Linked DNA regions of Homo sapiens. The protein of the gene in region 1 interacts with the protein of each later gene in a pairwise test. Each region holds a gene or a part of one and is shown in the gene's direction. Other genes may lie near its edges. The genes, in order: SIK1 and NMNAT1.

Evidence for each region.
Region 2: the proteins of SIK1 (region 1) and NMNAT1 interact in a two-hybrid assay, tested with the Homo sapiens proteins (one large-scale study listed by BioGRID).

What each region holds. Positions count from the first base shown.
Region 1 is NC_000021.9:43,424,320-43,428,826, reverse strand, and holds the start of SIK1 (serine/threonine-protein kinase SIK1), read left to right. Parts: upstream 1-1,695; 5' UTR 1,696-1,817; intron 1,818-2,634; 5' UTR 2,635-2,648; coding exon 2,649-2,804; intron 2,805-3,303; coding exon 3,304-3,420; intron 3,421-4,507. UniProt on the Homo sapiens protein: Serine/threonine-protein kinase involved in various processes such as cell cycle regulation, gluconeogenesis and lipogenesis regulation, muscle growth and differentiation and tumor suppression. Phosphorylates HDAC4, HDAC5, PPME1, SREBF1, CRTC1/TORC1.
Region 2 is NC_000001.11:9,974,409-9,978,214, forward strand, and holds part of NMNAT1 (nicotinamide/nicotinic acid mononucleotide adenylyltransferase 1), read left to right. Parts: intron 1-1,183; coding exon 1,184-1,367; intron 1,368-3,806.

The sequences.
Region 1 (4,507 bases):
ATGACAGCTCACTGCAGCCTCAACCTCCCAGGCTCACGCCATCCTCCCACCTCAGGCTCCCAAGTAGCCGGCCCCACAGGCGTGTGCCACCACACCTGGCTATTTTAAAAGTATTTTATAGAGGTGAGGTCTTGCTATGTTAACCAAGCCGGTCTCAAACTCCTGAGCTCAACTGATCCTCCTGCCTCAGCCTCCCAAAGCACTGGGATTACAGGCGGGAGACACGACGTCCAGCCTTGTTTTTGTTTAGTTCTCCTAGGAGCGGATTAACAGGGTGTTGGGACCTCCAAAAGGAAAAAAGGCAGTTGTACACTGTTCAGCTGAAAGGAACTAAAAATATTCCCCCGTATTCTTGGTATATAAACCTGGGACAAAGAAAAACACTCTGAACGATTAAGGAAAACTTTGGGACTCTTCATTTCCTTGAAAGCCTTTGAAAACCAACTGACTCCCAAACAACCCGTGTGTGTGTGTGTGTGTGTGTGTGTGTGTGTGTGTGTGTGGCGATTGGGAAATCTGTGGTCAGACCCTCGGGCGAATGAGGAGAAGCTCATCCTCGTTTCTCCGGGCCCTCCTCCCAGGCGTCCGTCCAGGCAGGAAAGCCTCCCGAGAAGGGTTCCAAGTTTTGTGCCAACTCCCCTGAATTCTCGTTCCCCCTTCTGTGAAGTAGTGTTATTTAACACAAGGAAAACTGACCCTAGGCTCGATCCAGAATCTAACTCCCAAATGGGTCCTCAGGCTTAAAAAATACCTTCGCCCACAGCCTCTGTCTCCCCTGAAGAAAACGTTTTCCGTTCGGATGAGGCATCGGCCACGGGCAAGCAAGTGGTCCCGCGCCCCCGTCCCCTACCCAGGCGGCCGGCCTGGCTCCGTCACCGCCCGCAGCGTCCGCCCGGGGCCCGCGCGGGAAGAGGGTCCCAGCCCCACATGCTGCGGGGGCAGCCCCGGGACGCGCAGACGCCAGCGCCGCTGAGGGCCGGGGCCGGGACCGGCCGCGCGGCGGGGGCTTCCAGAGCGGCCGGTCACGCTTCCTTAGGTTTCAAGTTTCTAACTTGCTGAACATTTCAGATTTTAACAGCAAAAGCGGCTGACGTCCCCGCGGGCAAGCGGCCTCTCGGGGTCTGCAGCGCCCCAGGGCATCCGCGCCGCCAGCCCCACGCGCGAGCCCGCGAGGCCCCCGGGCCCCCGCACGTCCCGAGGCTCTGAGTCTGGACGAACGCAGGCCGCGTGGAGGGGCCGGCGACCCCTGCCCGAGAGCCGTCCCCTCCTGGAGGGAGCGAGCACAAGGCGCCCGCGGGACCCGGCCCGAGTGCCCGAGCGTGGAGGGGCGGGCGCGCCCTCGGCGGTGGGGCCGCCCGCAGTGCCCCCAGCGCCCGGGAGGGGGCGCCCGGCGGAGCGCAGGCGGGCGGGCCTCGGGCGGCGGGCGCCCCTGACGTCACCGGCCCGCGGTCGCCAGGGCAACGGCCTCATCCCGCGCGCGTCAGAGCCGCCAGTCTCTTGGCAACCGCCCGATCTCCCGCTCTCCCTCCGCCCGGCGCTCGGCCGCGCGTCGCTCTGGCGTCAAAGCGACGTCAATGGGCGGCCCCCGCCCGGGCGGCGGGGGCGGGGCAGGGGGCGGGGACTACGGGGGGCGGGCCGGGGCGGGCCGGGGCGGGGCCGGGCGCCGCGTGCGGCGGAGCGCGGCGGCTCCGGGCTGACATGCGGCGCGGCCCCGGAGGCAGCAGCAGCGGCGGCGGCAGCCGGAGCAGTAGGCACCCGAGCAGCGCCAGCGGCCGAGCGGGCGGCTTCCTGGCCTGGGCGCTCCGGTGGCGGCGGAGGTGAGGCGGCGGCAGCGGCGGCAGCGGCGGCAGCGGCGGGCTCCGGGCGGGCGGAGGTGGCCGCCGTGGGGGCTCCGCGCGGGCGCCGGGCCGGGGCTCGGGGTTGCAGCCACCGCGCAGGGTCCCTGGCCTTGCGCGCGCGGGGTTCGCGGGCGGGGTTGGCGGCCTGGCCGCCCTCGGGCTCCCCTTTGTTGGGGGGCCGGGGTAGGAGTGAGTCCGCGGGGCTCAGGGGCTGGGGAGCCGGGGGTCAGGTTGGAGCCGACCGCGGGCGGAGATACCGGGTGTGGGGGGCGGGTCCGCGATCCCCGAGGTGCCTGGGATGTCGGGGGTGGGGACCGGACGGATCGCGGGCGGCGGGGGCAGGGTGTGGGAGCGGGGCAGGGGACGGTCCTGGGATCCGGATCGAGCCGACCTCGGGTGGCAGGGCCAGGTGTGGGAGCGGGTCCGCGCCCAGAGGTGCTAAAGGGGTCGAGGGTGGGGACGGAACCGACAGCGGGCGGCGGGAGGCGAGTGTGGAATCCCGGCTCAGGGGGTCCCGGGATCGGGACGGAACCGGACTCGGGCGGCAGGGGCCTCTATGAGAGCGGGTCCGTGCGCCCCGCGGGGCTCAAGAGGGTCGGGGGTCCGGGTGGAGCGGGCGGCGGGGGCGGGTCCACACCTCCCACGGGGCTGGAGGGGCCCGTGGATAGAGTGGGGGCGACAGGCGTGGGAGCAGGTCCCTGCGTCCCGTGGGGACTGGGGGCTCCGCGGGCACGGATGGAGCCGACCGCGGGCGGCGGGGGCGCTGGTGGGCTCTGAGCTCTGTGCGGCCCCGCAGGTGCGCGCGGAGCCATGGTTATCATGTCGGAGTTCAGCGCGGACCCCGCGGGCCAGGGTCAGGGCCAGCAGAAGCCCCTCCGGGTGGGTTTTTACGACATCGAGCGGACCCTGGGCAAAGGCAACTTCGCGGTGGTGAAGCTGGCGCGGCATCGAGTCACCAAAACGCAGGTGCGTGGGGGCGGTGGGACCCAGCCGGCGGGGCCTCCCCACTGGACCCGGGGCGACCCGACCTTTGGCGGGTGGACCCCATGCAGATTCACTGCTCCAGGCTTGATTGTCGTGGTGGGTAAATAGTAACCGTTTTTAGTTCGGTAAAGAAAAATAATGCTTTATATTATGTTGCTGCATAATTTGGACATATATTGGGAGAAAGCAGAGAGGATAATAGCAAAAAAAAGGACCAACCTAAGATTGCAGTGGTTCATGGACTCAGAGCTAAACCCTGTAAAGTGAGCCTGCAAATACTTAAGTCACTTACTTAACTCTGATTATTTTAAATAACATTAGTGGTTACTTTGGTTATGTTTTCCCAACTTCTTGTGACCTTCTGGAGACAGAGTGTTGAGAAATTAACTTGCAAAAAATGAAATGTGTAAATTAGGTTGAGGGTTTCTTTTCTTTTTTTAAAAAAACCCACAGAATATCCTTTTTCTTTTTAAATTTGTAGGTTGCAATAAAAATAATTGATAAAACACGATTAGATTCAAGCAATTTGGAGAAAATCTATCGTGAGGTTCAGCTGATGAAGCTTCTGAACCATCCACACATCATAAAGCTTTACCAGGTAAGGGGTCAGCTTGCCTTTCTCTGCTAATCCTGGCAAATGTGTTATATTTTATTTCCAACAGCATAAGTCTGCAATTTCTGAAGGTGGCTTCCCTTTTGGGGAGTGTGTGGAAGTTGGGCATTTGGTTGTATAAGGTAAATAGATTGATTTTTATAGGCTGTGCAGATATATTTACAATTATTTTATTGCTTTTGGATCATAATTGAGATTTGCTTCATTAGAATTTTATTTAGTATCCTAACCTGATCCAGTTTTAAATGTGTAGAAGTCTGTTGTAAATTTGCTTTACTATGAAAACAGACAAACTTATCTGTAGGTATTGCCACAGGTCACGCATTTAGTATAAAAGGACAAATTTGAGTGAAACTGGAAACTTCTGCCTTTGCAGATAATTATTAAACTTTAAAGCCAGCTGCTCTTACTGGTTTTCATTAGTTTATTTTTGCAAGGACAGTAGTGAGCATTTGTTTTCCCTATTTAAACTCTTCCATGAAAAACGGAGAGATGAAAATACTTTTCCATAGTAAGAGCAAGGAGCTTGTCATTTAATCCATGCTAGGAACATGGCTTGCCCTGTCTCTCTGTTGGTTTATTTTGTGACTTAATTTTTGTTCTCATGTTGAAATTAATAAATTATATCATCAGGAAATAAGTACTAATTTAATTAGAACAGCAAAGCAATCATTTACACCTCCCTAATGACAAATGACCACTTTTGCAAGGTGAAATCAAGTCTTCTTGCAGAAGAAGTTCTTTGCAGGTGCTATTTCATCCATTTGTGTTGGGTTGAAGTTCCTCGTAATGATTCTTATGAAATGGAATGTGAGATGACTCTGGGATGTTGTTGTGTGTGTTTGTGCAATTAGGACAGCTCGGTGTACAGTGTGGTAGGAGAGAGAATTATGATTCGAAATTATCCCCCAAAAGCCTCTGCACTAGATTGAAAATAAAAGTAGCAGTATTGGTGGAGCTTACGACAGTTTGCTCAGTGTCTTTAAGCACAGAATTCATGCCGTGTGCGCCTGGTTTGTGTTTTGTTTCTGTTGTCATTTTTAAGTTGTGTGCTCCATGGCCACTGGTGTAC
Region 2 (3,806 bases), on another chromosome or scaffold:
GACAGAGTCTTGCTCTGTCGCTCAGGCTGGAGTGCAGTGGCATGATCTCAGCTCACTGCAAACTCCGCCTCCCAGGCTCACACCATTCTCCTGCCTCAGCCTCCGGAGTAGCTGGGATTACAGGTGCCCGCCACCATGCCTGGCTAATTTTTTGTATTTTTAGTAGAGACAGGGTTTCACCGTGTTAGCCAGGATGGTCTTGATCTCCTGACCTCGTGATCCACCCGCCTCGAACTCCCAAAGTGCTGGGATTACAGGAGTGAGCCACCGCGCCTGGCCTAATTTTTTAATTTTTTGTAGAAACTGGGTCCCACTGTTTTGCCCATGTTGGTGTTGAGCTCCTGGGCTCAAGTGATTCTCCTGCCTTGGTCTCCCAAAACACTGGGATAACAGGTGTGAGCCACCACACCTGGCCTCGATTTTTTTGTTACATAAATGATCATATAATATGCTGATAGGTAGATGGATGGATGGATGCTAAAGCTCACTATTTGCCTATGACATTGAGAAATGGGCTTTTGCATACATCTAGGTGGACAATACAAATTAAGGCTTTTTACAAAGTAATTTGGCAATATCAATAGAAATTTAACTGTATAGGGGAATGAGGTGAAGTACAGAGTGTCAGTTGGGGAAGATGAGAAAATTCTGGAGATAGATAGGAGCGATGGTTGCACAACAGCATGTTTGCAGTTAATATCATAGAACTGTACGCTTGGGTATATTTTACCATAATTTCAGTCAGTTAATTGATCAGCTAATAAGCTGGAATCCCTAAAGAAAGAGAATCTGTGATTATAAAACAATATTGGCCAGGTGTGGTGACTCATGCCTGTAGTCCCAGCACTTTGGGAGGCTGAGGCAGGCAGATCACTTGAGGTCAGGAGTTGGAGACCAGCTTGGCTAACATGGTAAAAACCCCATCTCTACTAAAAATACAAAAATTAACCAGCATGGTGGCATGCGCCCGTAATCCCAGCTACTCAGGAGTCTGACTCAGGAGAATTGCTTCAACCCAGGAGGCGGAGGTTGCAGTGAGCCGAGATCACTCCAGTGCGGCCTGGGGAACAGAGCAAGACTCTGTCTCAAAAAACAAAACAAAACAAATAATATTGATCGTAATATTTCCTGTGCATAAAGTCTAATTTGTTATACCTAGTGTGAAACCTAACTTTTTATCTAGGAAGGTACACAGTTGTCAAAGGCATCATCTCTCCTGTTGGTGATGCCTACAAGAAGAAAGGACTCATTCCTGCCTATCACCGGGTCATCATGGCAGAACTTGCTACCAAGAATTCTAAATGGGTGGAAGTTGATACATGGGAAAGTCTTCAGAAGGAGTGGAAAGAGACTCTGAAGGTGCTAAGGTATTTATGGTGTAATCAACTTTGTCAGTTCTGTGTAAATGGCTAAGCGGCTTATGTTTTTACCATGTTTCAATGTTGCTTACATCTGTGAACATACAGATTTGCAAAACTGTCACGTGTGTTGTAAGCCATTCCTGTGGAAGGTTACTACAAGACTGTAGAGCACAGCACCAAAGGATGGGTCTTCCTTAGCCCCTCTGTGTCTTTCATTATGTTTTAAGTTGTTTGCGGCCAGGCGCGGTGGCTCACGCCTGTAATGCCAGCACTTTGGGAGGCTGAGGCGGGTGGATCAGCTGAGGTCAGGAGTTCGAGACCAGCCTGGCCAACATGGTGAAAACCCGTCTCTACTAAAAATACAAAAATTAGCCGGGCATGGTGGCGCATGCCTGTAATCCCAGCTACTTGGGAGGCTGAGGCAGGAGATACACTTGAACCCCGGGGATGGAGGTTACAGTGAGCCAAGATTGTGCCACTGCACTCCAGCCTGGGTGACAGAGCGAGACTCCATCTCAAAAAAAAAAAAAAAAAAAGATGTTTGCTTGCTTGCTACTATGTGATACCACTGTTAGAAAATAGAGGAAGCCTGCCTGGGCTTTCTGTGCCCCAAATGAGAAAGGGAAAATTGCAAGAAGATGTTATTATCATCAGTCTTCCTAAGTATAAAAGAGACAGGCAGATAATTTAAGGAAGAGAAGCATCCAGTGCTGCTTGATCATGGACAGGCCTGATTCGTGTGCTGCTTCCATGACAGCATCTGGGCAGGGAGTCACAGATCTCTGTGCCCATACCTTTGAAGCAGTTCTAGTTAAGGGTTCAAAAACCAGAGTAAGTGACATCTAATTATTTCTCTTTTTTTTTTTTCTTTTTGAGACGGAGTCTCGCTCTGTCACCCAGGCTGGAGTGCAGTGGTGCATTCTCGGCTCACTGCGACCTCTGCCTCCTGGGTTCAAGCAATTCTCCTGCCTCAGCCTCCCAAGTAGCTGGGACTACAGGTGACTGCCACCACGCCCCGCTAATGTTTTTGTATTTTTAGTAGAGATGGGGTTCTACCTTGTTGGCCAGGCTGGTCTTGAACTTCTGACCTCAGGTGATCCACCTGTCTCAGCCTCCCAACACCTAATTATTTCTTTTCTTTTCTTTTTTTTTTTGAGATAGAGGTTCACTCTTGTTGCCCAAGCTGGAGTGCAATGGCATGATCTTGGCTCACTGCAACCTCTGCCTCCCGGGTTCAAGCCGTTCCCCTGCCTCAGCCTCCCAAGTAGCTGGGATTACAGGCGCCTGCCACCACGCCCGGCTAATTTTTGTATTTTTAGTAGAGCTGGGGTTTCACCCTGTTGGCCAGGCTGGTCTTGAACTCCTGACCTCAGGTGATCTGCCCATCTCGGGCCTCCCAAAGTGCGGGGATTACAGAGGTGAGCCACCGCACCTGGCTGACACCTAATTATCTCTTAATGTTATTTTGATTTTTTTAAACTTTATTTTCTTTTTTTTGTTGGAGATGGGGCCTCGCTATGTTGCCTATGCTGACTGATCTCAAACTCCTGGCCTCAAGCAATCCTCCCACCTAGGCCTCCCAAAGTGCTGGGATTACAAATGTGAGCTACCATGCCTGGCCTGTTGTTATCTTGAGTTTAAAATGAAAGGGCTTTCTGAAAAGCCTTTCTGTTTAGTATCTGTTCTTAGAGTTCTGAACTTTCCAGTGACTGACTGTATCATTTAGGGTTCAGACTAGGAAATAGAAACCCACTCTGGATATTTTAAGTGGAAAGAGATTTAAGTACTTAGGCAAAAAGTACTTAAAAGAGCTGAGGCCGGGCGTGGTAGCTCATGACTATAATCCCAGCACTTTGGGAGGCTGAGGCCGGCAGATCACCTGAGTCCAGTAGTTCAAGACAAGCCTGGCCAACATGGTGAAACCCTGTCTCTACTAAAAATACAAAATTAGCTGGGCCCATACCTGTAATCCCAGCTACTAGGGAGGCTGAGGCAGGAGAATTGCCTGAGCCTGGGAGGCAGAGGTTACGGTGAACTGAAATTGTGCCACTGCACTCCAGCCTGGGCAGCAGAATGAGACTGTCTCAAAAAACAACAACAAAAAAAAGTAAAAGGGCTGGAGAAGTGGAAGTCAGGGTCACTCCTCCGATGTTGCCGTCAGAGTTCAACAAACCAATTCCGCTTCTGCTGCTATTGAACTGTCTCAGTCTCCTGAAGTTGGTGACGGACAGTGGACTCCAGCGTCTAGCCACCACACCCACACTAGAAAGGATTACTGGCTATAAATAGCGCAATAATAGGATCAGGCCGGGCATGGTGGCTCACACCTGTAATCCCAGCACTTTGGGAGGCCGAGGTGGGTGGATCACCTGAGGTCAGGAGATCGAGACCACCCTGGCCAACATGGCAAACCCCGTCTCTACTAAAAATACAAAAATTAGCCAG